Linked DNA regions of Homo sapiens. The protein of the gene in region 1 interacts with the protein of each later gene in a pairwise test. Each region holds a gene or a part of one and is shown on either strand. Other genes may lie near its edges.

Region 1 (10,967 bases):
GCCAGATGGTGTCACTGGGTGTGGGGGCGGCAGGGAAGGCTGAGGACAGAGCCTTGGGAAGAACACGTCCAGTTGGAGGGCGGCAGGGAAGGCTGAGGACAGAGCCTTGGGAAGAACACGTCCAGTTGGAGGTCGGCAGGGAGGAGCATTGAGTACAGGGGACTGAGGATGGCCGATGAGGTAGAAAGAAGGCTGGTGTGGTGCCCTTGAGACTGGAGAAGGAGCCTCCAGATGGATGAGTCATAACCCACGAGAAGTGAAGCTGACATGCGGACATGCCCACTGGGTTGGGAAACATGCTCGTTACTAGAGATTTTGACTGTGCAGTTCCAGTGGAAGGGTGGACAATAGCTTGATTGGAAAGGAATGAAGAGGAATGGGATGCGTGGAAGTGGAGGCAGTAAGTGTAGATGACGCTTTCAAGGAATTTTGCTTTAGAGCATTGAGACAGAGGCTAACAGTATGTCACATCCAGGGAGGTTCTTCCGAGTAAAGGTATTCATATTACAGCCCGTTTGTAGGTTAATGAGAATGATCCAGAAGGGAGGAGAAGCTAATGGTGCAGTGGAGAGCAGAGTCCCTGAGCAGGTGAGCAGGGATGGGGGCCCATGCCCATGTCGGAAGCGGGCGCCACACTGCTTCATGATGGAAGGCAGAACGCCTGGGCCAGGGTGCAGGCAGGTGTCACAGAGAATGTCCTTCATGACCACATCCTAGTTCCCAGAACCTGCGAATATGCTACTTTACATGGCAAAAGGGAGTTTGCAAATGTGATTAAGAATTAAGCTAAAGACCTTCATACAGGGAGATTATCCTGGATTCTCCAGGGGGCTGGTGTCATCACAAGGATCTTTAAAAGTAGAAGTAAGGAGGAGACGTGACCAAGGAAGAAGGGTCAGAGAGACGCAATGCTTCCGAGGAACTCTGAGGATGGAGGAAGGGACCATCCTCCAAGGAATGTGGGTGGCCCCTGAATGAAGAGGCAGGAGAAGGCACACAGCCCTGCCTGCCAACACCTTGATCTTAGCCCAGTGAATCCTGACAGACTTCTAACCCGTGGAACTGCAAGACAATAATCGTGTGTTTGAAGCCACCAAGAGTGTGGTCGTTGGTTTTGGCAGCCATAGAAAAGTAATACAGTGGGTCAGGGATCCGGGTGGGAAGGAGACAGCCCTCAGAGAAGGGATCCGGGTGGGAAGGAGACAGCCCTTAGAGAAGGGATCCGGGTGGGAAGGAGACAGCCCTCAGAGAAGGGCTTGTGGGGAGCCTGGGGGTGCTGGGAGAGGAGCTGGTGTGAAACAACCAGCTGGCTGGGAAGCTGGTGGCCCCAGGCTGCACCGCAGGCAAGAGCAGCTCTCAGCCCCAGGAGGCCAACAGTGGTCACTGGTGTGGGAGCCAGTTACATTTCCAAAAGAAGCTGCACTTGAGGATTACTGTGAAGCTGACTTTAGGGCTGGAGGGGCACAGGGCCAGAGTTCTGGGTTAGTGGCTTCTGACTCTGGTCCTAGCAACGCTTTTACTCCAGGTCAGCCTCCTGCACCTTGCCTCCTGGGCTTCCCCTTGACCCCCTCCTAGGGCATCTGGGAAGGTGTGATGAGTGGACTTGAGAGGTGAAAGTTGTTCCTTTGAAGCAGTCCATGGCTGATGCTCCCTGAATGGCATGAGAGCTCATTGGCATGGCCTCTGGGTGCTACTGGAAACCAGGGCTTTCAGGATGGCCCGTTATCCATCCGTGTCCTGGTGGGTACATCCTACATCAGCCTGTCTGAGGACATTAAAATAATCCCAGGAATGATATTTCCATTGCTCAAGACTTCTTCTGTGGCACTGGCTCCCCCACTGCCCCAATAGCTCGGCTCCAGATGATAAAGCTGCATCTGGTTATAGCCCAATGGCTTCTATGATTGAATTGAGGTGAGCCAGAGTGAACCTCAAACTTTGAAACACCCCTGGTGGCCAGGACCTGCTTGGGGGCTTTTGTAAAGGGGCTGCTGGGAAAGGTGTTCTTAAGGCAAAAGCACATGTCCAGAGAGGAGACCCCGACGTCAATCCTAAGTTGTCACACCTTGGCCCTAGCCTGGGGACTGCCAACCCACAGTGAGAAGCTGCTGCTTTGGGGTCCTGGAGCAGGAGGAGGGGGCTAGGCTAACTGTGGCGGTGACTTCAGCCGGCTGACCACGTGCTATCTGCAGGTCTGGCCGAGCCCAAGAGGGCAGGCTCCCGCACCCCAGCTGCCCATCCTGCCACCCTCCATCCCTGAGGGTTCTGACCTCCTGGACCCAGTTTGACCTAACGCTCAAGCCCCCTGGGGCCTTGGCGCTTTCATTTCAGGCCACAAACTGGGTGGGTCTCCTTGACCCTGAAGTCAATGGCAGCAGTGGGGAAGTTCCTTCTTCAGTCAAGATAAGCAACAACCTCACACAAGTAGACTCATGTCTATGTCATGCTCGTGGGTCCTAAAACAGGTCTTTAAAAGATACTTTCAAACCAAATAGGTAGCAATTAGGCATTATTTTATTATTCCTGAAGCTCATGAACAAGAAAATGGCACAGAGACAGGTCATCTCCCTATTGCTGAGTTACCCTGGAGACAAGCCTCATGCAAACAAACTCCTTCTCCAGGACACACAATGCCCAAGAACAGGCTGGGTCTGAGGACCTGCCTAGCATGGGGGGCAGAAGCACTGCCTGCTGCAGAGACAGCCACGGAGTGCATCCCCACCACCATCACACTGCTCACTCTGCTGAGAAAGGGTGAGGTTTTAAAGGACATTCACCAGCCTCAGATGCAGGGGAAATGTGCTTAGTTTAGCATTTACATATCTTGACACAGTAATGACACATCACTCAACAATACTTCAAGGGTAACTAACTCCAAAATTCTTTATTTAGTAAAATTGTCACATTTGATGTCAATGGAATACACAAACTCAAGTGTGCTACAAACAAGATGTACAGAGCATCACAGCTCTGGGCAGTGCAGCTCAGTGCACCTGCCTCTCATCTCCCCGCTGAAGTGGCAAGTTCAAGCTTTTGTTTAGCCCAGGGCTGCCTGGAACACTAGTGCCCAGCACCATTTCTGCCACCTCTGCCCCCAGAGCCCGCACAGGGCTGGTGAAGCCTGGGTGGGTGAACCTGGGAGAGCGCTGGCAGCTCTACAAAATTCTTCCTCCTGCCCGTAGCTCCCTCCCTCCACCCACTCCAGAGCTGCAGGGTCCCTAAAAGTTTCTTAAGAAACGGGGCTGGGGCCTGACTGGGCTGGTTACCAGGGGCTGCCCTGCAAGCCATCCATCAGAGGAGGGAGGGAAGACCTGGGAGACTTCCAGGGCCCTACCCCACCACATCTGAACCCCTGGGAGGAGGGAGGAGATCCAGGGAGGGCCGGGCCCACCCCCGCAGGACTCTGGCTGGCATTGGTCACCAAGGCCTCCAGACACTCCGGGCAATTTGGGCTGTGGTCAGGCTGCCCAGGGCTGCGGGCACCAAGTCGGGCCCCTCAGCAGGAGCCTGACTCAGTTCAGCCTCAGGGGCCTCCTCCAGGTCGGAGCACAGGTCGTCCCCAGGACCCGGGGGGCTGGGTATTGGGGATCCCGGAGCGCCCCCCGCAGGCCAGCCACTCCGTCCAGGGGCTCTAGGTGGCCCCGCCAGGGCGTCCCCCAGCAGATCCTGGAAGCTGCTGCCCTCACGCAGCGGCATGGACTCGAGCAGATGGTTCAGGAGCTCGGCAGCGACGGTAGCGTCGATGGCCTGGCACGTGGACACGAACGTGTGCACCTCGTGCATGCACTGGATGTAGCCGGCAGCGAAGCGCTCGCTCGCTTCCGCCTGCAGCTGCTCGCGCTCTGGGCCCGAGGGTGGGAGGGAGAGAGCCGCGTCCCGCGCGGTGAGCGGCGACTGCGTGGCCCAGCCCACCCGGCCCGCGGGGACGCGGCTCACCCAGGAGACGCGGGGGCGCACCCTGCTCCGGTGGGAGCCCTCGCCGCCGACAGGACAGGGGCGCCGGGAGGGAAGTCCTCCGTCTGGCAGGGGTTACAGGCGCCCGCGGCCGGCGCCCCCGCCCGCCCCGCCGCCACTCACCGCGCGCCCGGCCCCGCAGCACACCCTGGACCCGCCGCACCGTCAGCTCCAGCACTTCGGCGTTCTCCAGCTTGGCCTGCACCTGCGCGGGCGGGAAGGGCGGTGAGCCGGCAGCGCGCTCCCGGACCCGCCCGCCCGCCCCGCAGCCCCACGGCGCCTGCCCGGCCGCCGCACCTCGGCGCCCGCCAGCAGCAGCCGCAGCTCCTGCAGGCTCTCGTTGATCCGCGCGCGCCGCTTCTTCTCCACCAGGGGCTTCCGGGCCTGCGGGGAGCGGGGCACTGAATCCCAGCCCCGCACGGCCTCCCGCCCGCTTGCTCGCCCATGGCCCCGGCCCGCACCTTGCGGTCCCCTCGCGTCTCCCAGCCGTCCTCATCCTCACGGCCCACACGGTCCCGGCCAGGCGCCGCGGGTGGCGCCATGCCCGCTCCGCCGGGGACGCGGCAGGGGCTAGGAGCAGCGGGGACGGGGAGCGGCGGGGACCGGAGTGCCGGCGCCCTCCGCTGCCCCGCGGCCGCCCAGCAGCAGCCCAGCCGTCCGCGCTCCTCGCGGCTTCCGGCCCGCCGCGGTCCCGCCCCTTTTATAGCCGCTTATTTGCATCTCAATGCGCCGATTGGCCGCGCGGGCCCGGGGCGGCCGACCGCGAGGCGCGCTGCAGCCAATCGGGGCAGCGCGCTTTGTCCGGCCCAGCGGCTCTGGCGGTCGGGCAGCTGGCTGAGCTAGGCGGGGCCCCCAGCCCGGCCTTCCCTAGACCCCCGCGGGGGCGGCACCGGGGCGGCGACCCCGGGTAGCTGCGGCCCTGCCCGCGCTTGTTTCTCTCCGTCTGCTGCTCTAGGACCACTGATCTGCCGCGCGTGCGAGCAGGCGTCCACCCGTCCGTCCGTCCGTCCGTCCACTCATTCATTCACCCATTAATTCATTCATTTCCCTCCTTCGCCGATGGCGCCTCCAGAGTTGAGCGCTGGGGCCACTGGCCCCAGGAGATGCGTCCCTGGTGTGCAGAGCCACAGTCAAGTCCGCGGTCTCTGGACCTAGAGGGGTTTCAGGTCCCGGCTGGGGTGGCTGCCAAGCCCCGGGGAGGCAGGGTCCATTGGGCAGCGGTGGCGGGGCGGCCCCTGAGTTTCTTCCGGACTCGTCCAGACGCCGGGCCGGACCCCCGACGCCGCCCTCCGCCAGCACTGGAGTCCTAGTGGGGCGGGGTCCCGGGTGCTCCCGCCCGCGCCGCTCTCCCCCTGGGCTCTGCGGGTCACCAGCCCCGCCCCCCTCTGAGCTCCCCCATCTCCCTCTAGTCCCCTTTGGCCCCCGGGGCCCCCTCCCTCCCTTCCACTGCCCCCCGCCCGCCTCCCTCCTCCCCTCCTCGTCCTCCGCGCCCCGCCTCCCAGGCCCGCCGAAGCTGCCGTCTGGTCCTGTAACTTGATGCCCGTGACAGTTGGCAGCTGCGGCCGCTTCGGCGGAGAAAAGCGAGAAAAGCGGCGGCCGCGCCAAGAGCGACAGGTGTTGGCCGCGCCTTTGTCTCGCACCCTTTGTCCGGCGGGCAGGCGGCGGGCGCTTGTCCCGGCCAGACGCCCGCGACTCCCCCATCGCGGCGGGCCGCCCATCTGCTGGGTTCCTCTTGGCCGCGGGCGGGGTGCGTGGGCGGTGGGGCCGCGCCCTCGGGCAGCGTCCTGGGGACCCCTGCCCGGCTCCTGCCCCGGCGTCAGTCCAGACGCTGTGTGGAGGAGCCGGAACGGGAGACGCCTTCTCGGACCCCAGCCGGCCGACTACCAGCCTGCCCCGCACAGCACCTGCCTTCCTCAGTCCCCACTACTCACCCGGGCTGGGATCGTCAGGGTCTGTTCTGAGCCCCTCCAGGCTATAAGCGTCCCTGGACAAGGGCACAGTCTGACCTAGGACCCCCTGTCCACCTCCCCGCACCCCCAGCAGAGCCTGGCCTCACAGAAGCGCTGGTAGGTAGGGAAGGTGAGGGGTGGCCCTGGCAGGATGGGCTGGAAGGCCGCGTGGGAGGGGAACATCACGGGACCGCAGCAGCTGAGCGGAGCGGCAGGACTAGGCTGCAGACCGACCGCCCCACTGCCCCTAGAGAGGTCTGACAGGCCTCCCATGGCCCCTTTACTTGCGCCTCTCCACCAGAGGGACCCCTGCAGGCTTCCTGCTGGGTGAGTTTGGTGAGAGGTTTGAAAGCTCCCAAAGTCACCTCACTGACCTCTGTAATTACCTGGGACCCCCTCCCGCTGGCTCCCAACTGTCCCTGCTCTGGCTCTTGGTTGCTCTATGAGCAGGGTCCTGAGACTTCCCCCAGCCCAGCATCACTCACCTGGGTGTGAAACTACCGCTTTACTTCACACACTCCCCACCTGCCCAGTAGTGGGGCTGGCAGGGTGGGGCTGGAGTGGTGGATCCCAAGGAAGTGGATTATTAGCCTGTGACTTTACTCTCCTTCACCACTTAGACATCACCCCAGGGAAGGAGAACCTCCACTCCCCCAAGTGGCTACAATGACATTTCCACTACTTCGAGAAACTGTGATAGGGAAAAATAAACTCACTGATATTTCCTGTACTCCCAAGTTTGCAAACTGATTTACACTCCTCTCATTATCCAAACGAACAAGGCCAAGTAGATGTTTTAGGATGCTCTCATCCTAAAACATCTGCTTTATGTTAGGCAATTTATATTGCAACAGGATGATCAGGGCCCCAAAAGAGGACTTTGGGTAAAGCCTGACTGAACACTTGATTGGATGGGGAACTGGATTTGAGGGGCAAGGAGGACATGATAAAGGCAAATGGTGCAAGCAAAAAAAAAGAAAGAAAAGCAACTAGGAACTCTAGGAAAAACAAAAAGCTTCCCAAGAAATGTAATCTTAGCACATTACTTGGCTCAGGAGACAATTTTCACAGTCACAACAATGTAACAGTGTTCATAGGGTTTTAACATTTAGAATTAATCTATACAGAAGGCAAGGAAGGATTGTTTATGGTTATGGGACATGATATAAAGTTGACCTTGTAAAAACAAAAGGACAGGTGATAGGAGTTATGAGAGAGGAGGCTAAAGGGAGGACTAGGGACCTCAAAAGCCTTGTCTGACAGTGGAGTGGGTGGAGGGTTGAGGAATGCTGTCTAGAGTTGAGGGAGGGAGAAATTAAGCACTGGGATATGCCTCGGTGTGACCAAGGATCCTACAGGGAAAAGAGCTTAAGTAGAGAAGGCTGTACATCAGCAAAATCCTTCTTGGTTGGACTGGAAGTTGCCCAAGGTCCCCTCTGCAAGGTCAGCTTCAATTCCCTTTAGCGGTGCACTGGCCAGCTGGCATGGCCTTTTTGTCCCAGAAGCCTGGCCTATCTTGAGGTCACCAAGCCCTCCCTCCCTCCTTCACAGCAGCCTCCCCTAGCCAACACTTCCTGCCATTTGTCCCTTGGGCCAGTCCTGCCTTCAAAGTTTGCCTGAGTATGGACTTCCTGAGCATTTGAGTCCTTTGATCCCCCTAGAGCCAGGAACAGAGGCCAGCAGAGGCTGGGCAGGGTGGTGGTTGCTGCGGGGATACCAGTTAGCAGTGGGGGTGGCAGGCCATAAATCCCTGGGGGAACAAAGGCAGCTGCGGCCTGTAGACTGTCCAGGCCCCTTGTGGGCAATCTGCCCAGGAGACTCAGAGAATCTCCGTTTGGTTTGGAAATAAATCCCTTGGGGTTATATGGTAAATAAAAATACAATTAAGAGTCTTCCAAAAGCACTCAGGTTCAGTGAAACAACCATATCTGGCCATTTAGAGCAGTTTGCAGAGGCCTCTGTGCTCGCTAGGGAGGACTTTGCCTTTTATCCCATCAGCACTTGGCGTTAGGCAGCCAGGCTAGCAGGCAGAGGAGAGCCCCTCCCTTCTGCTCAGGGAGCTTCTCAGAGGCTGGGCATTGGGTTCAGGATCCATTCAGCTCTCTGCTCCCACCCCCAGGGTCATGGTTTGAAGAGTGGGAGGGATGGGGAGCAACTCTTCGGGCTTCCACAGTTTTGGCCTCACAAGGCTTCATTCATCACTGTGAAAGAAGGGCTGGGGTCAGGGGACTATGCCGCCCTGCCCATATCATTCGCAATGGAGACATGTGACCTTCCTGGTGGAGCCTCCTGACCGCCCCACCTTTAGCCCTACCTAGCCCGATGACCAGAAGACAGGCAGCCAGCCTGGAAAGGCCAGGTAACCCAGGGCAGGGATGCAGGGAAGACAGAGGTGCGTGGAGGCAGAGCTGGGGGCACTCTGGGGCTGAGCCAGACAGCTGCACCCCTCCAACTAAAAGTGAAAAGACTGTGGGGCATGACACGATTAGGTTTGCATTACGTGAGTTCACTCCTGCAGCCTGAAGGAGGGTGTGTGTGTGACACGCACAGGAAGAAAGGGAGCCAGCAAGAAGCAAACGCTATAAGGGAGCTGACCGCCAGGAGGCCTTTGGGATGTAAGATTCTTTAATGCAGAATTCCTGGAGTTCTTTAAAAAAATTTTTTTTAAATAATCTTTGCTCTCTATTCAGGTTTTCCTTTGTGCTATGTGAAAAATACATACAAGTAAAAATAAAAATATACTTGCTTTATTTACCAATTTTCTAAAAGGCAAACAGGTCATAAAAAGACACAAGCAGTCAAACAAATCTATTGCACTGGGTAAAGAAAGTTTGGTTTGCACACAAACAAACCACTTGTCCAGCAAGGCTCAACAAATCATCACAGAAACTCTGAGAGCTTATTTACATATCTCTTCGGGAATATATTAAAAAGAAGGCTCAGTTTAAAATAGAGAAAAACTGTTTAACACCTGTGTAAGCACACACACTAAAGAAAACATGACTTGATGCTTGGCATCACGTAAACAAATTCACAAGATGATCCTATTAAGTCAACTGCTTGGCACGCGCTGAAGCTACAGTTAACAATCAGTGAGCACATATTAAATGATAAAATAATGCTGATGGTAAACATTCATAACAGCAGAGTAAGATTTTGGCAGTTTTGTGTTTCGGTAACATAACTGTAACCTTAGATGAACACCTATCCCTTCATGATCTGACTTTAGAGGCAAGGAGTTTGTAACATCTAATGGCCATAAGAATGCAGACTGCTACCTTATCATAGGCATAGGCAGCTGATGTTACTTTGTAAATTAACGAAAAATTAAAGTGTTCTTGTGTTTATGAAGAATAGGTTTAATAGTCAGGCATAAGATGGTTTTACGATGAAAACCTAGTGGATTACAAAGAGATTTCACCTCCATCAAAAAACAGAAAACCCTGGTCCCAGTTGGGCGTGGTGGCTCACGCCTGTAATCCCAGCACTTTGGGAGGCCGAGGTGGGTGGATCGCTTGAGGTCAGGAGTTCGAGACCAGCCTGGCCAACATGGTGAAACCCTGTCTCTACTAAAAATACAAAAAATTAGCTGGGTGTGGTGGCAGTCGCCTGTGGTCCCAGCTACTCAGGAGGCTGAGGCAGGAGAATCGCTTGAACCTGGGAGGCAGAGGTTGCAGTGAGCCAAGATGGCGCCACTGCACTCCAGCCTGGGCAAAAAGAAACTCCATCTAAAAAAAAAAAAAAAAAAAAAAAAAAAAGAAAACCCTGGTCCCTTTTAAGCCTCATAGTCTTGGTCCAATTTTAAGTCAACTGTTCTTCAGTGATAACTTTGAATTTCCACCAGGGACCAATATTAAATTTTCTGAACCATCTTTGGAATATACAATGCAACATGAGGTTTTGTAAAAAGCCGGGCAGACTGGCCTCACTTTTCCCCAAGTGTCCAAATGACCTAAAAGTGCTGGGGACACTGGCAGAGGCCTGAAGCTGCTCCGAGAGAGGTCGGGCTCATGAAAAGAATGAGGGCTGTGCACCCAACCCAGGGTGCAGTGGGAGAGGTGAGCTCACTGCACCCCTGAAAATACAGATGCAGTCGCAAGCTGTCAGACTGAGTGGCAGTGGCTGCTCTCGGCCAGGAGATGTGATGTGGGCTTGGCTGGGTGGAAGCAGATGTCTGGGTGGTTCCAACGGAAGAAAACCAAACAGGACTGGGTCTCACATGTGTTGGTCACAGCCTGGTTTGCAAAGGGAAGTCACCATAAAGAGATGACTGATGACATATTTTAATCTCCATATTGGCCATCATGGTCTGAAAAGGAGACAAGAATAATGCAGAAATATACAGAGGGTCTGTCTGCGTGTGCATTCATCCGATGGAGTTGGCCACACAAACCACTAGGCTTCTTTAGTCCAGAGCAAATGTTTCAACTTTGTTCACTACAAACAAAACCTATGTCAGACTGAAATATTGACCACACCAGAAGCCAAAGCTGTTGGTTTGCCAAACAACGCTTCACACCATTTAATGTGAAACGTTTTGAAATAAAACTAGGAGAGGCTGCTATCTCCATTTGGTATGTATAAAAAAACACTCTACCTTGACTAAATGATAATTCAGATAAAAAGCAGTCCCCAAGAGAGGACAAAATTTGATCTGATCCAAACACCCTGGGAAAGCTCTGGAAGCCAGAGTCCCCAGCTGGTGCAGCAGACAGAGGTCTCGTCACAGTCACAGGACTTCTGGGAGCACTGAGGCAACTTCCCTGACACTAAGAGGCGCTTAGTCTTTCTCAAGTTAAATAACAACTAAAATCTCTTCCCCATCCCACAAAACTCCACATATATATTTTATATATAAAAACATATTTCTTTCCGAACTCTCCCCACTCTCCACAGTTTTAAGTCGCCCCTTCAGAAAACTATGTTGTTTTTTTTTCTAAAACAAAAAAAGCAACATGAGCATATGTGTCCATTTCAGTGGAAACAGCCATGAAGATCTTTCATCTCTTCCAAGCACCACCTGGTGTACCTCGCTGGCTGCCGGGCTGAGGTGGGGCAGGGGTT
Region 2 (9,305 bases), on another chromosome or scaffold:
CATGGTGACCAAAGAATCTGAATTTGTTGAAACTTACTTTGTAACCCATATTCAGGGCAAAAGGTATACAAATATTTGGCTTACTAGATCTCAACAATCACATGATTCCAGTCTCCTGGGGGACAGGAGTGGTGACTCCTACGGTCACAGCTTAGGAAGAAATTGCTCTCCCACTTGCACTTGCATTTGTGAGAATCACTACTCACAACCCTGTTCTCATACCTACCGCCATCCTCCAGACCCTGAAAGGTAGACACAATTTTTACTGTTCCCATTTTCCAAGTGGGAAACACTCAATTGTCTGGGCAATTTCCTAAGACTCTAACCCTTCTGTAGCTGGGCTTGCACTAGTCATCTCCAGGACTCTTGCCACCAACACAGTCAGAGCCTCTTCCAAAATCAAATAGAAGTGGCTTCATCAGATTCAAGATGATCTATGAGTTGATAAAAGTTTCAGAAAAATACCGTTACAGAAAGAATGTCACAAGTTTGGGAACTATAAAGTATGAGGGAAAATGAAGGGAGAAAATCCACTAACAGAAAACGGGAGTATCTCTTTAACCCACACACATGCATCCCCCTTCTCCACGGGCATATGGCTGCAAAGCAAGACATCGCATTTCCAGTCTCCCTTGTGGCCACCATGTGACAAACTCCCTGCCGACGGACTGGCAAATAAAAGTGATGGAACAAATTCTAGTCACCTGCTTAAAAACACATCGCTTTCCCTGGACTTCTGCTCTTTCCCCACTGCTGGCTGGAAGTGGTGGCAACTAGAGAGGCCTTACAAGTGCAGAGCTGCATTGTGGGCCTGGGTCTCCGGGTCACAGGTAGGAGGGAGACAAACTCTAATGGTCTTTAAGCTACTTCATTGTTGGTATTAGAGAAAATAGGGAAGTAAGGCGGGGAGGGAGAGAGAACAGAAAAGATAAACACTCCATTACTCCATTAACAAGCCATCTGAGTCTGTCAGATAGAAACCTACTTCGTTATACAAGGAAGGGATGACAGCATAATCAGCTTTAGTAATGGGGGTTTGCCATTCACTTAATGAGAAGTGAAAATATTTAACTCAGTATATAAACATTTTTTTTTGGCAAAAAGCAAACAAAGTAATGTTTTTGAATATATAAAGAACAAGGTCTTGGTAACAAATGAAAAATATTAAGACAAACTGCCAACAACTCGCTGGATCATAAGAGAACAAGAACATTAAAAATTCCTTAGGTGCTATTTTTAAACAGCCGGGAACACTGCCTTAAATTTATTAGCTATTATTTTATAAAATAATAGAAAATAATGGTGTATAATAGTATATAGTATATAAAAAATAAGCCATGTAGCTTTTTCAGGAGGAAACATGGATGGTAACTTATTAAAAGCCCAGGATTACAGATTTCATCTAATCACATTAGTAAAAGCATGTCCACAAAGATAAAGACCAAAGACTAATGATAGATAATAATGGCTAGAGCTGCAGGGAGGGCCTTAATGAGAAGAATGCGGAGAAGTGATGGGTATGGTTGGCTTAAGTAACTTAATATAATAGACCAAATAAGTATTAATGAAGACAAAACCAGCTGACTTTCCACCTTTTACAGGTTAATGAACTCTGCAGCTTTCTGTGTATCATAGATCATAACACAAAACCCAAGTGAAGCTTGTGAAGAGAGAGAATACAGATTTGAAACTACTGAGGCCAGCATGTAGTGGGTCATGCCTTTAATCCTAGCACTTTAGGAGACCAAGGCGGGAGGATCACTTGAGGCCAGGAGGTCGAGACCAGCCTGGGCAACAAAGTGAGAGTCTGCCTCTACAAAAAATAAAAATTAAAAAAAAAAAAAAAATTAGCCTGGCTATTCAGGAGGCTGAGGTGGGAGGATTGCTTAAGCCCAGGAGTTCAAGGCTGCAGTGAGATGTGATCATGCCATTGCACTCCAACCTGGGTAACAAACAATGTGAACTCAAATCTTTAAACAAAAAAAAAAAAAAAAAAAAAGGAGAGAGAGAGAGAGAACGAAAGAAAGAGAGAAAGGGAAAGAGAAAGGGAAAAGGAAGAGGAGATTGGGCCTTCCTAGAAAAAGGAATATTTTGCCTTCCAATGAATCACCAGAAAAAAGTAGAGCTTTAATCTTTGACCTTGAATCACAATAGTATCATAACAAAAGAACAAATCTTGATGAAGTAATTTTACTTTCCTAAAGAAAACTGTCATTAGTAAACCTTCAATTACTCACAATTCCTAGTCTTGAGCTCCCAGTAACTCAAGCTTGTGAAGGATTAGGTTCTAATGCAATGGGAGCCTACCACCAAATATATTTATAAAATAAGCAGTGCAATTCAAAACTTCCTCTACAAATGTATAATCTTTGCTTATAAAACCCACATTGATGATCCCAAAGCTTTAATAAAAAACAATAAAGAAAGAAAAGGAAAACCACTTATTGGTACTAAAGCCTTTACTGTAATAAACCAAATATATTTACAATTTATACAAATGTTTAACCTTCAACAAAAATACAAAAAAACATTTCACAAGATGCAAAACCAGGAAACAAGTTCATTGGAGACACCACTGCTCTACAAAGGACGGAAAGTGAGGTGAACTGCAAGGAACAGAAAGGTAATCTCACACTTGGGCAAGGCGTGATCCCCAGATCACCCAGAAAGAAAGAATGGGCTGTCATGTGAGTCGGCAGATTCCGTTCCTCAATCCTACAACCCATGGCCCCTCTGTCCGCTTGGCCTTGGTGCTCCATTTGGTCTATGTAGACAGGTGACTTTCTGCTGATGGACTTGTCGCCTCCTCTTTGTAGACTCAAAGTAGTTTTCTGTCAAGGTTTGGAAACAGGTGTTTGTAATTTTTTTTCTCTTTTAAAGTTACAACTTTTCTATTTCTATAAATTCGAAACATTTTGGCCCAATTCAACTATAAACGTTAAACCACATAATGTTTTCAGTAGATGACTTCATAGACTGTAGCCTTCTTGTCCCCCGAGCCAGTGACTATGTACTTATCATCCACAGAGATGTCACAGCTAAGCACTGACGAGGACTCTTTGGACTGGAAGAGAAAACAATGGACATGTGTTTAATGTGGAACAACGGTACTCAGAGGCCCTGCTCCCTCGGAGGCACCTTCACTCCTGGCTTCAGAGGCGACACTGTGGTCAAACTGTGGATCTAGGTGAGGAGTACTTACTCACCTGGAATATGCTGGCTCCATAGGGGGTCCGCCAAGCATTGAGGAGGTTATCTTTTCCAGTACTCACAAACCATTTACCTAGAATTAGCAAAGGAATATCTAGTTTTCACAAGGTTAAAATTCCTACTATACAATTAGCAACTTGGACTTAATCAAACTAAGAACATTTTTAATATATGAACTATCATGCCCTAAGGACTGGTCCATGATATGAACAGAGGTTTTAATCTGGGCTCCTCAGTGATTTATCAGTGATCTTGGGTATAATCTAAGAGGTATCAGCCTCCTTAGTCACTGGATACAGGACTAGTAGCATCATATCCAACACACGGTAACCCTCAAATATAGAAATCAATGAAGAATGTGTTCTATTTTAGTCAGTCTCCTCATGATAAAATGGGATTAAAGATTCCCATCTTTAATGGGAATTAAAGGATTAAACATCCAACTTAAGTAAAATGCCAGTCACATCATATAGCATGAAGAAAAATGCTCAATAAGTGATAGGCACTCATCCACCCATCCATCCATCCATCCATCCATCCATCCATCCATCTATGCATACTGTGAACAGATATCTGCCCATCTGCAGCACACAAGAAGGGTCACCACATGAACTTCTTCCCTCTTCATCCTCACTGTAGAGTAGAGTGTAACTAAGTGTCTGCGTATACCTAAATATCGACTTCTCTAACCCTGGATTCCTCATCATGGCCAGCTCATAATGACTTCCACTGCCCCTGCTCCATTCTTCAATAAATTCCCGCCCACCCCTCTTCAGAGTAGAAACTCATTGTCGTCTCCCAACCCCTCCAAAACAAACTTGTGTCCAAACCGTGTATTAGGCAATCACATTGCCTGCTGACTTTTCTCAAATTAGCAAAACAGACTGAAACAGACATTGCTGTGCTCTGAAGGGCATATTAAAACAATAGAATTATTGCATCCAGCTGCTCGGAGAACATTTTTTCCAGATTATGATCTCTACCATATTTTTTTAAGAAGCATTTTCCATTTGGGCCATCAACGGCCTCCAGTTTCCTTTCGGCTGAACTCACCACAGTAAGCAAATTTCAGGGACAGCACGCAGCTCTCATGCAGGTGCAGCTGGTACTTGTCAGGCTTGTTCACGTGCAGCACCTCCACATTGCTGCTCTCCATGCCCACTGCCAGCCACTCCCCGGTGGGGCAGTACCCCAGGGAGAAGATCTACAAGGAGCAAGACAGGCTCACTCATTATTCCGCCTGATACACTTAGGAAGGGAAGACGCAATGTGAAAAGTGGGGAAATAGCAAGAATGGGGGGAAGTAATCAGCCAAGTCCAGACTGTGGGGAGGTCCACAGGGCAAGTGATCTAACGCAGATGAACCAAGTGTCAAAACCTTTAGGAAACTGGAAACATTTGAACCCCTCTGTCTTTTGGGATAAAATTAAGAAATGATTCCTAATAATAATGGCATTCATCTGTACATTTTAAAGGAGGCTTTACCTTTTAGAGACACTAACTGAAATACGATCATATATCACCTATCAAGGGGGATACATTCTGAGAAATGTGTCGTTAGGTGACTTTTTTTTTTTTTTTTTTGAGACGGAGTCTTGCTCTGTCGCCCAGGCTGGAGTGAAGCGGCGTTATCTCGGCTCACTGCAAGCTCCGCCTCTTGGGTTCACGCCATTCTCCTGCCTCAGCCTCCCAAGTAGCTGGGACTACAGGCGCCCACCACCACGCCCGGCTAATTTTTTGTATTTTTAGTAAAGACGGGGTTTCACCGTGCCAGCCAGGATGGTCTCGATCTCCTGACTTTGTGATCCACCCGCCTCGGCCTCCCAAAGTGCTGGGATTACAGGCGTGAGCCTCCGTGCCTGGCCTTGTTAGGTGACTTTATTGTGTGAACTTCAGAGAGTGCACTTACACACACCTAGAGAGTGGAGCCTATCGCTTGTAGGCTACAACCCTGCACAGCATGTTACTGTACTGAATACTGTAGGCAACTGTAGCATAACGGGAAGTATTTGTACATCCAGATACATCTAAACATTGAAAAGGTACAGTAAAAATATAGTATTATAATCTTAAGGGACCACTGTCACATATGCGGTCTGTCCTTGGCTAAAAGGTTATATGGTGCATGGCTGTGCTTATGGATACAATGATATGCTGCTAGAGTTTATTTTAAAATAATCCAGTGTCTGGGGGTGGGAACGAGAGTTATCATATGGCCAAATAACTTCAAGCTGAGCGATGGGCATGTGGCATTTATTGTACAATTCTCTGTGCTTTCATAAATGCTTGGACATTTGCTGTACTCATATGTATTTGAGAATTTCTCTAAGAAGTTTTAAAAAAAGGCAGAACAAAAATTGTATCCTGCTTATGTTGGGAAAGAGTGAAAACAGCAAGACTCTAAGAAACTCAACAAAATGTTAACAGGAATATGAAATTTAGAAGTATATATGCTTGTTTTCTGTTTCTGTCCTAGTTTTCTGAGTAGAATTATTTTTATTACAAAACAAGGTAAAAAATAAATGCCAAGTCATGATCGAAAGAACAATTCTACCACCAGAAAGCATTTAAAATGGCAAACACTGTTTTTTCCAAAACAAGTCTACATTCAGACATTGGACATCAAAATACTTTTCACAATCTACAAAGTTGCCATTTATACATTATTTCAAAAGTCTGCAAATCTAGTCAGCCACCAGTTCATTTTTTAAAGGATGAGGAATAAAATGGGTATCACTGAGGTATCTGTGCATTTTTTTGAGCTCTCTGGTGCGGGGTAAATAAATGAACTTTCAGAGGAGCTGTGACTTTTCTCTACTCTTAGTGACATTCTGCAGATTTCTCAAGTTCTATTTATTTAGGAATCAAAAAATCATCTCCTACTCCTGCATTAGATGGTGAGAATATGTGCCACAGATCAAACACTGCTGAAGGAAAACTATACATTCTTCAATGTACAAATCCCTTAAACAAACTCATATGTAAATATAACAGAGAACACACCTTAACCTACAGGATTCTAAAAACCACTCTAGTTTTGGGGAAGGTAGGGGGAGGGTCGTGAAGGAGGAGGTGGTGGTCATTGTTTTTAAATTAGTTATCTCAAATTCAGCCCTGATCTGTTTGTCCAGCCACTACCATCCTAGGGTAAAGGAGGGAGGGTTGTGAGGAGGAAGACACACCCCAGCCACCTCCCAGACTCCAGGGCAGGCGGAAGCCACTCAGTCACCTGGGAGGTGAAGTCGTGCTGCTGCAGCTGCCGCCCCTCGCGCAGGTCCCAGGACCTGACTGTGTTGTCCAAACCACCCGTCCAGAGCTTGGTGCCATCATTAGAAATGTCAATACAGCTGGCTCCGTCTGTGTGGCCCTGGAATTGCCTGATAAAACAAACCAGATTGAATAATGATTTCCTGCCAGAGCTCAAGGTAAACACTGTTGTGTTGTTAGTTTTGGACCGTGTGTGTGTGTGTGTGTGTGTGTGTGTGTGTGTGTGTGATCCCGCCAGTGTCTGCTGATGTGCAAGATCAAACTAACCTTCCCCTGAGGAGGAGGGGAAACAGCACCTGCGATTGTCTTTCCCTGTTTTCCACGATCCAAGTGCTAAAGAAATGGAATGCCACTGCAGGTCACTACCCAGAACTTAAATATGCTACTCTGACAAAACCGTCTGGAAGGTAAAATTCTTTCCAGGTCTGGAAAAGTGTTTAATTGTTAAATAGAAAATAAAAGACAAACACACAAAATCCCGATTGTATTCCTTATGGGAAGATAAAGGTCTGTTCTTTAATCGTGCAGGCCTGAGTCCGTGAGAGAAAGAAATGGGGACGTTACAAGCACAGGGTGTACAGAAGCATTCCTGTTTCCATGAGTGAATCAACACAGCAATGCCCTACGTGCCAACAGAGCATGAGCTCATGTATTTACTCAACCTTGCTTTCTGTGTTAGAAAGAGCCCTGCATTAGGAAATCTGGACTCCCAGAGACAAAGGGTCACGCATGCCGGCCTCCTGACCTCAGAGGCATTGGGCAGAGACACAGGTAATTGCTGAGGCAGACCCACGGGCACCTCAGCAAGACTCTGCCTCCAAGCGGAGCACAAGGTTGTTCTTTAAAGAACCTTGTGCTTCATTCAAAAATCGCCATCAGAAACGATCAGCCAACAGGGATCTGCTGAGCACAGATGCTGTGCAAGGCAACTAGCAGAGCTGCTGAGGGGAGGTCAGTGTAAGCCCCAGCAGGGACGGTGACTGGTGGACTCAGTTCTGCATGCTGAGAGGAAGGTGGTGGGGGAGGCAGCCAGAAAAGGCGAGCAAAGTCTAGACCCACCCTCAGAAGCAGGCGGGATCCAGTAAAGAACTGCGTGGGAATTTCAACACTGAGAAGAAAGTTACCATGCTGCTTCTTCCTCCAGGATCCCCACACCTTATCATTCCTGTAGAGCTCCAAACTTTTAACCTGAGCTTGGATTTTAAAGAGTGCAAGGGAAGGAAAAAGCACCACTACTGCCCTAAATTCTAAGCCAAGACGTGAACCATCACTTTTAAAATCTTCTCTCTGCAAGCCATCCCCAACTTCTGCACTTTAGGATCCAGGTTGAGTCCTCTCTCCTGCGGCCGTGCAGCTGGACCTCCAATGTTTCCGCTTGCTTCCCAGACATCCCCACAGAACACCCAGGCCTGGAGCAGTCCCTGCTTCACTTGGTGAAAGTGTTGCTTTCCTTCCCTTCAAACAGCTCTGGAAATCCAGTGACCCTCTGACTTCTTTTGACCTTTCTAACTCATGAAACGCTGTTCCTCCTTGACTGAAAACACCTTCCTCTGCTGACATACAGTACCTGGCAGCTGCTCCCCCATCCCTCTGCCCTCTCTCCGTCCATATACTATACTCCAGCATTACTCTCAGGCACATCCTATGACTGTTCAGAACGTGCTGGGTTACAGTGGATACAAAGACATTCAATAGGCTTTACATGGCCCTATTACATGCAGCAGCCACTAGCCACCTGTGAGTGGTCCAGAGAAAGATTTGTAAGACGCTACCCCATTCTATCCAACAGGTATTTACTCCCCAGGAGCCGGCACGGAGCAAGGGTTCAGAGTACAGACGAGAGCAGAATGCCTGGGCCTCAACTTGGCTCCACCACATCTGACTGTGTGACCTGAAGCCAGTAACTTACCCTCTCTGAGCCTCAGGCACTTCCTCTATAAAATGGGGCAAATAGCAGGACAGACGTTATGAGAACTAAGTGGAGGAATATTTGAAAAGTGCTTAGAATTGATATTTTGAAAGTGCTACTTATGGAGTTTTAAAAAAAGAAAAAAACAAGTAACTTTTGCTAGGATAAAAGGTGGAGAGGGCGTTCGGCCCTGGCTCCATCATTCCATTTTGCTCACCTACACTACCCAGCAAACAGAAGAGGAAAGTAACTGCCGCACTGTCACCCACACGCAGGGACCGGGCCCGGCTCAATGACACTTCATGGATTTCTACAGCGGAGGTTTGAAGAGAGTGAGCTGTCATGATGACTTCTGGAGCCCGTCCCTTCTCTGTGCAGCATGAGAGGGGACTTACCAAACAAGCCACAGACCCCAAACTGCACCATCCGCAGGGACGGCTTCCCAGCAAAGATGAAACAAGAGTAAAACATGTACTCATTTTACCTTTCATGTTTCATTCATGCTTACTTTAAAAAGACTTTTTGAGAACAGCTCTGGTGTGAGCACTGACTTCTGAAGGGAGCATTTGGCGGGGGAGCTGAGGAGAGACACATGGGTACCAGAACTGCAGCTGCTGCTAAGGTGACAGGGCTGATGCCAGAAGGCCAGGCAGAGCCCTGCGGGCTCCTGGGTGGAACCACCCCTGGGCAGGTCTATTTCATTATTGAGATACTTTAAAATCATTTTGTAGGCAAAATTCACAGAATCTCCTCTTCTCATGTCCCTTTGTTGATTTTCTGTTATCTTTTATCAGTTGGCTCTTGTCTGCACCAAGTTCTAGCCAAAGCCCAAAACATCTAGTATCAAGGGCCTTTTGTGCTGCCGTGTAATCCACATTAGGCCACCCCTTGGCAAAAGCCAGAAATATTTTTAGAACAA
Region 3 (11,350 bases), on another chromosome or scaffold:
GATTCCATACATTGGGAAATTTAAAACAGCAGTGGAAGTACAGCAATTTTTCTTGCCACAAACCTGAATTAACCTTACAGATTTTTTAATAGGAGCCCTGAGATATAATTTTACTTTTTGGAGAATATACTTACCCTTTTAATAGCTTAACTTTTCTTTTTTAGAATAAAAATGTTTGGAAAACTAGACTCCTGTTTCTCCAGATTAGAAATGAAATTTGATCCTGTGGTGGCAGTTTTTCTCTCTCTCATCATTACATATGTTAGAAATTCTGATAAGGAGATTGTTAGAAGCAGAGATAAAGATTATATAAAAGAGAGAGGAGACAGAAAAGGAGGTGAAATGTAATCTCACAATTCCCTGCACCACTTATTTATTTCCTAAAATCTTGTCTCACACAAAAGACATCAGAGACAGAAAGTTTTCTCTGTCCACATCTCCCATAGGGACAAAGATAGCTTACCATTTCTTGGAAAATAAAGAAAAAATGAATTTTTCTTTACCAAAATTTAAACACCATTAGGGATAGAGGTTAAAATTAATTGAGACATCTGTAAGAGTAACAAGTACCGCTACTCTGGGTACATTGCCCATGGGGTAGCCCTGCTCCACAAGAAGCAGTAAAGCTAAAACAAACAAACAAACAAAAAATAAAAAAAGAGTAACAAGTAGTTCTCTCTTTAGCACCATGTGAAGTATATTTTCATGATCCCATTCCCATTCCAATCCCAAATTTTCCAAAGCAAGGAACACCTACTATTTAACATAAAACATAGGACATATTAAAGACAAATGAAGAGTAGGGTTTGAAACCGTTGCAAGATCTGGTCTCCACTGACAAAAAAAAAAAAAAAAAAAATTCAACAATGTAGATGATAAACTACTACCGACTTTACCTGGTTGTGTAGGAATTGTTCCCTTAATATACTTGGATACATTTGTAGAAAATAAGCCACCTGCAACTTGGTATATATATACTCTCCTAGCAATAATGTACTTTTCAGAGTGTCTTCACATCTATCGCTAGAAATGCTATTATGTAAGTAACCAGAATTATTATCTCTTTTGAACAGATGATGAAAGTTTGAAGTGGACTTTCTCAAGGACAGCTAGTTAGTGGCAAGGAAGAGACTGTAATTCAGACTTTCTGGAATCCAAAATGGAGCCTTTCTCCTGACCATTGTCTCTGTTGAATGCACTAAGCAAATCTCTAGGACTTAGAAAAAATAATTAATTTAAGAGTATTATTCTTGTTTTTAATTCACTTTTAAGTTCTATATGAATTATTAATTCAATATCTATTATATAGTGGTTTTTTTTTAAGATAGGGTCTCACTCTGTTGCCCAGGCTGGAGTGCAGCAGGAATGCAGTGGCACAATCATTGCTTACTGCAGCCTCAAACTCCTGGGCTCAAGGGATCCTCCCACCTTAGCCTCCCTAGTAGCTGGGAATGCAGGTATGAGCCACTGTGCCCAGCTTATATAGTAATTTTTTTAAATAGTTAAAAATAATTTTTAAGGCCAGGCAGAGTGGCTTACATCTGTAATCCCAGCACTTTGGGAGGCCAAGGTCGGAGGATCACTTGAGTTCAGGAGTTTGAGACTAGCCTGAGCAACATAGCAAAACCCCATCTCTACAAATAATTATTATTTTTGAGACAGAGCCTTGCCCTGTCACTGAGGCTGGAGTGCAGTGGTGCCATCTCGACTCACTGCAACCTCCATCTCCTGATTCAAGCGATTCTCCTGCCTCAGCCTCCCAAGTAGCTGGGATTACAGGCACATGCCATCACACCCAGCTAATTTTTGCATTTTTAGTAGAGATGGGGTTTCAACATGTTGGCTAGGCTGGTCTTGAACTCCTGATCTCAAGTGATCCACCCTCCTCGGCCTCCCAAAGTGCTGCTATAACAGGCGTGAGCCACTGTGCCCGGCTATACAAATAATATTTTTAAAGTTAGCCAGGTGTGGTGGTGTGTGCCTATTGTCCCACGTACTTAGGAGGCTGAGGTGGGAGGATCACTTGAGCCCAGGAGGCTGAGGTTGCAGTGAGCATGATTGCACCACTGCACTTCAGCCTGAGCAACAGAAACCTCATCCCCCCCAAAAATAAACTTTTTTTATGCAGACAAGGTCTCACTATTTTGCCCAGGCTGGTCTTGAATTCCTGGACTTAAGTGATTCTCTCACCTCAGCCTCCCAAAGTGCTGGGTTTACAGGTGTGAGACAGCATGCCTGACCAAATAGTTATATTTTTAATGCAGTATTTTATAAAATTGGCTTATTGTTATCCCAATATTCATTGTTTCTGTTCCATACACTTATATGAGTACTTTCTATTACTAATGACCAGTCCATTGGTATAAAGAATAGCCTACATATAAAAGAAACTTTTTTCTCCCACCTACACACACTTTGACTGAGGATGTGAATTTGCTGTCACTAATTTTTGACTCTTCAAGTAGCTTTCTGAAGGATGAGCAGAACGGAATGGAAAAGAGAAAACAGTCACTTCTGGCTTCAACATGGAACCAGATTATTGAACCAGAAACAATGAATATTTGGATAATAATAAGCTAACCAGAAATAGGTCATGAGTGGAAAAGCAAAACAAGAAATATTACTAAGAATGTTATCCAACTAGACTAGAAATGGCATATCAAGTAGATGAGAAAAACCAAGTACAATAAGGAGGGTTGTTGAAGCACCTGGAATGACTACGCTAAGACAATAGCTATAAAAGATAATGCCCTTGAAGACCCAGCTTAAAAGACTCTCCCTCTGCAAAACCTACCCTCATTTCACCCCCAAAAAATTGTACTCTCTAAAATAATAGAGCTCCTCTCCTGTAGCCTTCATCAGGCCAAAGTTATTTATGACTTAGCACAAGACAACTCTCCTTTAAGGCAGGGTCCTTGTTGGGCTCATTTAACTCCTATGGTTTTTTTTGTTTGTTTGTTTTTAGAGACTGAGTCTCATTCTGTCGCCCAGGCTGGAGTGCAGTGGCACAATCTCAGCTCACTGCAACTACCCCCGAGTTCAGGTGATTCTTCTGCCTCAGCCTCCCAAGTAGCTGGGACTACAGGTGCGTGCCACCATGCCCAGCTAATTCTTGTATTTTTAGTAGAGATGGGATTTTGACATGTTGACTAGGCTGGTCTCAAACTCCTGACCTCAGGTGATCCACCTGCCCCGACCTCCCAAGGTGCTGGGATTACAGACATGAGCCACTGCGCCCAGCCTCCTGTGGTTTTTTGTTTTTTGTTATTGCCAGTTGTGAGAGTTGGGGCAGAGGGAGAGATATATTTCCTTTGCAGCTACAGTTCTTATTAACAGGTTGAAGGTGGAGGAGGACAAGGAGGAGAGGAAAGGAAGGGGGAAACAACCTCAATGTTTAAGAAGTGTCCTCTGTGTGCTTGACATAGTGCTAGACATTTTATATATGTCATCTCAGAGGGGAAACTAAGGCTTAGAGCATTTAGTAATCTATCAAAGATCACTCAACTGATGTTGAGTGGTAAAGTCAGGATTTGAATCTAATTATTTCTTCTTCCAAAACTGGTACTGAGTTCCGGTGTGGTGGTTCACACCTGTAATCCCAGCACTTTGGGAGGCCAAGGCAGGTGGATCACTTGAGGCCAGGAGTTTGAGACCAGCCTGGTCAACATGGCAAAACCCCATCTCTACTAAAAATACAAAAATTAGTCGGGTATGGTGGTGTGCACCTACAGTCCCAGCTACTTGGGAGGCTGAGGCATGAGAATCGCTTGAACTCAGGAGGTGGAGCTTGCAGTGAGCTGAAATCGCACCACTGCACTCTAGCCTGGGTGACAGAGAGAGACTTTTTCTAAAAAACAAACAAACAAACAAACTGGTACTGAGTTTAAGTATTTGCTGGAAAATTAGTTCTGTTATGGTACTTGGAGATGGCTGAAGGAAGGCATTTCACAATTGTTCTTAATTATTTCTGGGTCATGGAAGAATCTCTCCCATAAAAGTGTACATGTGCAAATATATACATCATTATCAGTTTTGCATACCATTTCAGAAGGAGTGGCTAAGGAACCATGGAAACCAAGGCAAAAACCTCAAGATTACAGTATTCCCAACCACCTTCTCCCATTCCACTCCACCCTATCCCTCTTCCCAAAGCCTGAGAGTAATTAAAACCAAAGAAAATATAAACATGAAAGTTTAGTTGGGAGAAGCAAATGCAAACTTCTAATATAGTATTGTACTCAAAAATGTCATGGAGAACTTGATTAGGAGACACTGAAGAATGTAGTGCTACAATCTTGAAATTTCACAGTTATGACCTTCAGACCATATATGATGTAAGGCTGAGAGACAGAGTTACCACAACACATCCTAAGAGACTGAAAATAGCCGAAAATCAAACTGAATGGAAAATTCCAGGAAGTATACTATATTTAATGGAAGAGAGGTTTATTTCTGTTATTTTGTCTGGGGGACTTTTCTTGAAAAATATGTTTGGATTTTTATGGGCTAAAGAAAATGTTTTAAATGAGGTTTATGTGATTTTTATTTATACCCTGTATTTTTTCGAAGATTTAAGAGATTATAGGTTTATAGAAAATATAACAAAATATTATGAATCATACATAGGAAAAAAGGTAGAGACATAAAATAGAGCCAGGAACAAACTTAATTTTAAACCATGAATTTATATAGTGATTAGGCCTTTAGTTCCTCAAGTTAATTTCTTTTTTTTCTTTTTAATTTTCTGTAGAGACAGGATCTCACCATGTAACCCATGCTGATCTTCTTGAACTCCAAGGCTCAAGGGATCCTCCAGACTTTGCCTCCCAAAGTGTTGGAATTACATGCATGAGCCACCGCACTCAGCCCCTCAAGTAATTTCCAAAAATTATGCAGTGCAAAGAGTTTTATGTATTAGGTATACATTTTTCATAATTTACACAGTATTTTCACATACATTATCTCATTTGATCCTAAATGGACTTTGTTAAGCAGTTATTATCCACATATTCCAAATAAGGAAACTGAAGCCCAGAGAAGAACTTGAAAATCCTGTTCTTCAAGGTGGGAGAATTGCTTGAGGCCAGTAGTTCAAGACCAGCCTGAGTAACAGAGGGAGTCTCCATCTCTCCAAATAATAATAATAATAATAAATGATATAGGCGTGGTGGCATGTGCCTGTGATCCCAGCTACTCAGGAGGCTGAGGCAGGACAATCACCTGAGCCCAGGAAGTCAAGACAGCAGTAAGCCATGACTGGGTCACTGTACTCCAGCCTAGATGACAGAGCAAGACCTCCTCTCAATCAATCAATCAATCAATCAGAACAATATGCATTTGACATCTATGGCCCCTGCATTTTCACGAGAGGATTACTACCTTCTTTACAGATGGCTTTAGATTTGGAGGCTGGCTAAGCATAAAATTAAAAGACGTCATGCTTGGAATAGCCCTTTTAAGAAACACTTAACTCCTTTACTTAATAGACAAGTGCACTGAACCACTCATAATTTTTTAAATTATTTTTATTTTAATAATTATTTTATTTATTAAGACACAAGGTCTCAATCTATAGCCCAAGCTGGAGTGCAGTCGCACCATCCTAGCTCACTGCTGCCTCAAACTGCTTGGCTCAAGCTATCCTCCCTCTTCAGCCTCCCAAGTAGCTGGGACCGCAGGCACAAGCCATCGCAACCTGTGCTCTGAAGCTTTAAGAGGCCAAACGATTCCTCACATTCATCCGATCAGTTACAGGTAGAGCCAAGACCAGAAGCCAGGTATCCTATTTTCCTTATAACACATTGCCTCTATAGCTTTATATCCATTTCTATGATTTTTGTTACATACCCAGTTCTGACCATTTCCTGTCACAATTTCCTTTGTCTACTAAGTAAAGTTCTAAATGCATGGTGACATAACATACAAGGCCCTACATAACCTGGCACAAGAGACCTCTCCAGGTACTCTCCTCCTCTAACAGTGTAGGAATACTCCTGACTCCTAGGATGCCAGGCATTTGTATAACATCCTAATAGAGTTGTGCTGGTGAAGGAAGGCCACATCCCTCTATCTTGTGAGAGTGAAGACTTGAGTTTCTCCATCACCAAGGAAGACTTGGGTGAAGGCACTCAAGTGGGAGGGACAAAATGACATCTGAAAACTGGAGGCCTTGGGCAGGGACCTCCCCTTCCTCAAACTAAAGGTGAATGAACCAAATTTTGCGATTCCAGGTAGCTTTTCATGTCAAATTTTCATGTCAAATTCTTCCGTGCCATCTCTGACCCTTTAGTAAAATCCCCTCCAAATATTCCAGAAAAACCTTGTGAGTTCATATTTGGCAAGGCCATCCAAAGCATGTTAGCAACCCAGCATGATGGTGTCAGTACTAATTACATAATGAGAGGCCCCAAAGAGAAGAGTATTAGGCAACAGGAACGAGGGCCACTAAATCCCAATCGCTTTTCCCCAGCAATGATTCTCCTTCAATATGAGGTTATGGGTTATGAGGATATGAGTTAGTCAATTAGCTTCCTTATGCAACTTCAAATTCCCTGAACAGATCCAGGAATTTTGCACATTCTGTTCCTTGTCCATAAACTTTGGTTCCCCTCCCCAAACTGTTGTTCTTTCGACAAACTCTATACATAATTCATATTCCTGGCTCAGAAATCATAATCTCTAAGTAACCTTTCCTGACACCCTATTCTCCACCTCCTCTTCCATAACCTGTGGTCTTTTTGAACAGAGTGGTGACATTTTGGGCTGGATGACTGAAAAAGCAAAGTAGAAAAACAGAACATAGAACATACAGGGCCTCCAGTTGCTGTGCCTGGCGGTACATGAAACATAGTATTCAATAACTATTCTTTGAATGCACAGTCATTTTGTTTTTTCCTTTAACAGTATTTCCTAATAGGTAACTCATGAACACTGCAAAAAATGTCAAACTGCACAAAAAAATTCAGGGAAAAGTACATTTTCCCCCCAATCCCATTCCCTCCTTTCTCTTAATACCAGTTAGCTTTCCTTTCAGATTGATTATGCATATATGGGTATGTAAATGTTTTCCCACTATTTGTTACACATAAAAATTATATACAATTCATATATTACATATGGTGCATGTTATATACACACACATAAACAGATCATCTCGGTTTTGCTTAACCTAAGTCAGGCTTTTTTTTTTTTTTTTTTTTTAGAGCAGCCCTCAGAACCAGGACAGGTTCAGAGACTTTATTTATTTTTTATTTACTATTATTATTTTGAGACGGAGTCCCGCTCTGTCGCCCAGTCTGGAGTGCCGTGGTTCAATCTCGGCTCACTACAACCTCCACCTCCCAGGTTCAAGTGATTCTCCTGCCTTAGACTCCGAGTAGCTGGGATTACAGGCGAGCACCACCACGCCCGGCTAATGTATTTTTAGTAGAGACGCGGTTTCGCCATGTTGGCCAGGCTGGTCTCGAACTCCTGACCTCAGGTGAGAGCAACGTAGTACTCCACTGTGCGTGCATACCATGATTTACTTTGCAGTCCCAGATTTACGGTTTCCAATTTATAAATACTGCCATTTTCACCTTCAAGCCCCGATGCCAAACACAGAAATACCAGGCCACCCCCACCCCCTCGCCGTGTGCCTCCCACATTTTCACACACATTTTCAGGAGCCCAGGGCGCAGCCTCACACCGAACGCCGCCTCTGCCGTCCCCTCACTTGCCCCGTGCCCCCACCGCAGGGCTGAAGGCGACGGAACCGAGCCTTTGTACCCCCACCAGCCCCGTTCCCTGGCGTCTCCCGGCCGCCGGGCTCGCCCGCTCAAACGTGGCGGAACAACCGGAGCCGGGCCCCGCCCTGCTGGAAGACAGGGCGGACCGGGCAAGGCAGGCGCGGGGCGGGGCGGGGCGGGGCTCCGGCTGGCGGGGCGCGGCCAGCGTGCAGGGCTGGGCCAGCGTGCGGGGCTCCTCCCCTTTCCTCCGGCGGCGCCGGCGGCCGCAGAACTTCCGGGTCGGCGCGGAGGCGGGGCGGAGGCGCCGCGGCGGCTGTTATTGTTCGGCTGGGCTCGGTCGGGCGCTGTCTCCCTCGGCTCTGCGGGTGTCAGTTCGTCCGGCTTCCTCACAGCCCCTCACTCCCGGCGGCTGACAGCAGCAGCGGCGGCGGCGGGCGGCGCCTGGCGTTTCGAGGCTGAGCGGCACCGGGGTTGGGGCGCGGAGGAGGAGCAGCAGCGGGAGGAGGAGCCGTGTGCCCTGGCACTGAGCGGCCGCGGCCATGGCGTACGCCTATCTCTTCAAGTACATCATAATCGGCGACACAGGTGAGGGCCCCGGGCGCGGCCGGGCGGGTGTCGGCGGCCTCCGGACCCGGGCTGAGGGGCAAACGGCGTCTGGCGGTGGCGGGGACGCGGACTCCACCCGGCGCCTCCCTCCTGGCCGCGCCGCTCCATTTCCGCAGTGCTGGAGCTGGTGACGTGGGCACTGCGAGCGGCCGCGGCCTGGCCAGGCCCGGTCTGCGGCCCCCGACCCGGCCAGTCTTGCAGCTGAGGGCCGTGGCAGCCGTTTGCGACGCCCGATTCAGGAAGTGTGTGACAGGAGGGGAGGCCTAGCGCAGGGCCGCCGGGGCCCGACTCACATGACTGCACCCCACCCCCAGGGCCCCTTGCGTTAGGTCTCTTCGCGGCCCCAGGAAAAAGAAGGAGGGAAACCTAGGGGAGCAGAAGGTGTTGGGGCCCGGGTCTTGGTTCCTGACCAGTCCAACCTTCCTCCACCAGCACGCATCTATCAAGGCCTGGGCAAGGCGCTTTTTGGCGTGGGACAGGCAGCCGAGAAAGAGAAAAGGAAACCTTTAAAATATGTATTTTATATATATACATATATATAAAATATGCTTTTTTAACACCTTCAACTCTCACGTCAGAATAAGTCACATCTCATTACTTGACGGCTGGAGAATCCCTTTCGGGGTTAGGAAAGCATGAACGAGTTCTGTGGACTTTTGCCACGTGTGAACTGGGGTTATATAGTAATGTAAAGTCGTTCAGTGCTCTGGGTGTGTACTTAGGTATGTGTATGTTGAGGACGCTGATGTTTTAGATATGTCAAGTCCGGTGTCACAACTGCTAATTTTCAGGTGAGCTCATGTCCATGAGCTGAAAGAAATTCAGTTATTCTCACTTAAAATGACGTCCTAGTATATTTCACAGAAAAGTAAACAGACTCTTCGTAGATATTTTTAATACCTGTGATTTGGCATTACTTTGAATCTAATAATAAACATAAAGATTGTTTAGATGTTGCAACTATTAATATACCAGAGTCTGATTTCAGTGGTTACTCTTGCACAACTTTGGACCCTTTGCACAACTTCGGTCATGTAAGCAGCAGTTTGTAGTTGAACTAATGATGTGGCAGGTTCTATAAGTAACTAAAGAAGCATGTTGGCCGGACGCGGTGGCTCACACCTGTAATCCCAGCACTTTCGGAGGCCGAGGTGGGGGATCACCTGAGATCAGGAGTTCGAGACCTGCTTGGCCAACGTGGTGAAACCCCGTCTCTACTAAAAGTACAAAAGTTAGCCGGGCGTCGTGGCAGGCGCCTGTAATCCCAGCCACTTGGGAGGCTGAGGCGGGAGGATCACTTGAGCCCGGAAGGTGGAGTTTGCAAAAAAAAAAAAAAAAAAAAAAAAAAAGCATATTTATTGCTGCCTGAAAGAAAAAATTTCTGCTAGATACATGAGTTTTCAGCAAGGTTTTCTGATGCGTGCGTGCGTGTGTGTGTGTGTGGAAATTGGATTTGTAAACTTTAAAAGAAAAATGCTGTGGTGTATTTGGAAGAAGGAGAATTCTAAAGTCTTCTGGCAAAATTTCATTTAGGCTGTAAAAACAAGATTGGAGAGGAATGCCACATTAACTGTAATATGAGTGGGTTTGAGAAATAGAAGCTTGTGACTGTGGCATTTGGCTATCTCATTAGTGGTGAAAATTCAAATCAGACTTTGCTGGTTGCCTTTTTTCAGTTTTTTATTTGAGGCTGTACTGTGGATAAATAAAGTATTGTGCATGGAGTAGTGGGGCTACAAATCCTAACAAGTTAATGCTCTGTTCTCTTGGAATTTGCTCTTATCCAAAAGCAGTCCCCACGCAATTCAAAGGGAAGACACTTCTTTCTTGTCATTGCTGCTGATACGACCTAGTTCAGGAACAGAATTCTTGACACTGTTATAGTCTGCAGCAGTACTTCTCCCTACTCCAGTTCAGCCAGTGTAGTTTACTGTCAGTTTAGTCATCCTGAAGCATGAATGTCAAAAGGCTACTCCTGTTTGCTCACAATTTTTAGTTTGACCTTCAGTGAACTCTATATTTTAGCCCCTATCTACATTTCTCGCCTTCTTTCCCGCTATTCCCCACCTTGCTTCTGCCATTGAGTCCCAGTGACTGATTTTGGTGTTTTTTTCCTGGGCACTGCTAGTCTCTATTCTTAGAGTGCTTTCCGGCACAATCTCTCCCTGTGGAAGATCCATCAGTCCTTCAAAGTCTTATCTGAGTTTTCCGTAATGCCTTCACAGTCAACATATATTAAGCTCTTATTGTGTGAAGATTTTCACAGTATCCTGGCTGAAAGTGACTACTCCGTTTCTGAATTTATGTTTCTCACTTTGTGTCATTCTTCTGATATTGATCCCAGACTTTTCTGTTGTATAGATACTTGTATAGGCACCTCTATTATGTAGGTACCTATTATATACTTCTTGAAGTCAGAAAAGATGTTTTGTATGGCTCTGTATTTCTTTCAGGAAGAGCGTAGTAGAAGGTAGGCCCTGTATATTTAACTAATAAGAGAGGAGCCAAACAGGCTACTATATTCCTGTTTGTATATATTAATAACTTAACAGAAGTGGTGTCGTTGTTGTTGTTGTTGTTGCCCAGTTCTGCCACCTTCTTGCTTACTAATTTGGGCAAAATCCTTTACCATATTTCTTTAATGCAGAGTGTACCCATAGTTGTAAGATACACTCAGTGTGGCCCTCCCCTAGAAAAGATGACTTTAAAATCAGTAATGTGAGATCCACTTTGATTTTTTAAAAAGTCAGGGTCAAAAACATGCATCTTAGAATGAAGGAAATCACCTAATTTTTCTGTTTCCCTGTTTCCGTAACCTATAACCTTCTCTCAGTATGTGGGATAAAATGAGGATAAATGTGAAAGTACTTTGATTTCTCAAAGGAAAGGAACAATGCACATTTTTCCTTTTCAGAATTCCCTCTTTAATAGAAGAGGTTTTAAAAACTTTTACATGATCATGATGATACTATTGAGCTGTTTTCTTACTGTAAGACTAAATGCAGTTAAAATGTAGC

The links.
Region 2: the proteins of HES6 (region 1) and TLE1 interact in binary tests that used the Homo sapiens proteins (3 or more experiments, as listed by UniProt).
Region 3: the proteins of HES6 (region 1) and RAB2A interact in binary tests that used the Homo sapiens proteins (3 or more experiments, as listed by UniProt).

The regions. Positions count from the first base shown.
Region 1 is NC_000002.12:238,235,410-238,246,376, forward strand, and holds HES6 (transcription cofactor HES-6), read right to left. Parts: upstream 4,630-10,967; 5' UTR 4,497-4,629; coding exon 4,416-4,496; intron 4,339-4,415; coding exon 4,252-4,338; intron 4,160-4,251; coding exon 4,078-4,159; intron 3,843-4,077; coding exon 3,418-3,842; 3' UTR 2,858-3,417; downstream 1-2,857. Other genes in the region: PER2 (period circadian protein homolog 2), read right to left, coding at 10,966-10,967. UniProt on the Homo sapiens protein: Does not bind DNA itself but suppresses both HES1-mediated N box-dependent transcriptional repression and binding of HES1 to E box sequences.
Region 2 is NC_000009.12:81,581,242-81,590,546, forward strand, and holds the end of TLE1 (transducin-like enhancer protein 1), read right to left. Parts: intron 8,870-9,305; exon of another isoform or gene 8,267-8,869; intron 6,636-8,266; exon of another isoform or gene 6,588-6,635; coding exon 6,440-6,587; exon of another isoform or gene 6,434-6,439; intron 4,415-6,433; coding exon 4,264-4,414; intron 3,284-4,263; coding exon 3,207-3,283; intron 3,065-3,206; coding exon 2,957-3,064; 3' UTR 2,442-2,956; downstream 1-2,441. UniProt on the Homo sapiens protein: Transcriptional corepressor that binds to a number of transcription factors. Inhibits NF-kappa-B-regulated gene expression. Inhibits the transcriptional activation mediated by FOXA2, and by CTNNB1 and TCF family members in Wnt signaling.
Region 3 is NC_000008.11:60,508,942-60,520,291, forward strand, and holds the start of RAB2A (ras-related protein Rab-2A), read left to right. Parts: upstream 1-8,045; 5' UTR 8,046-8,266; coding exon 8,267-8,312; intron 8,313-11,350.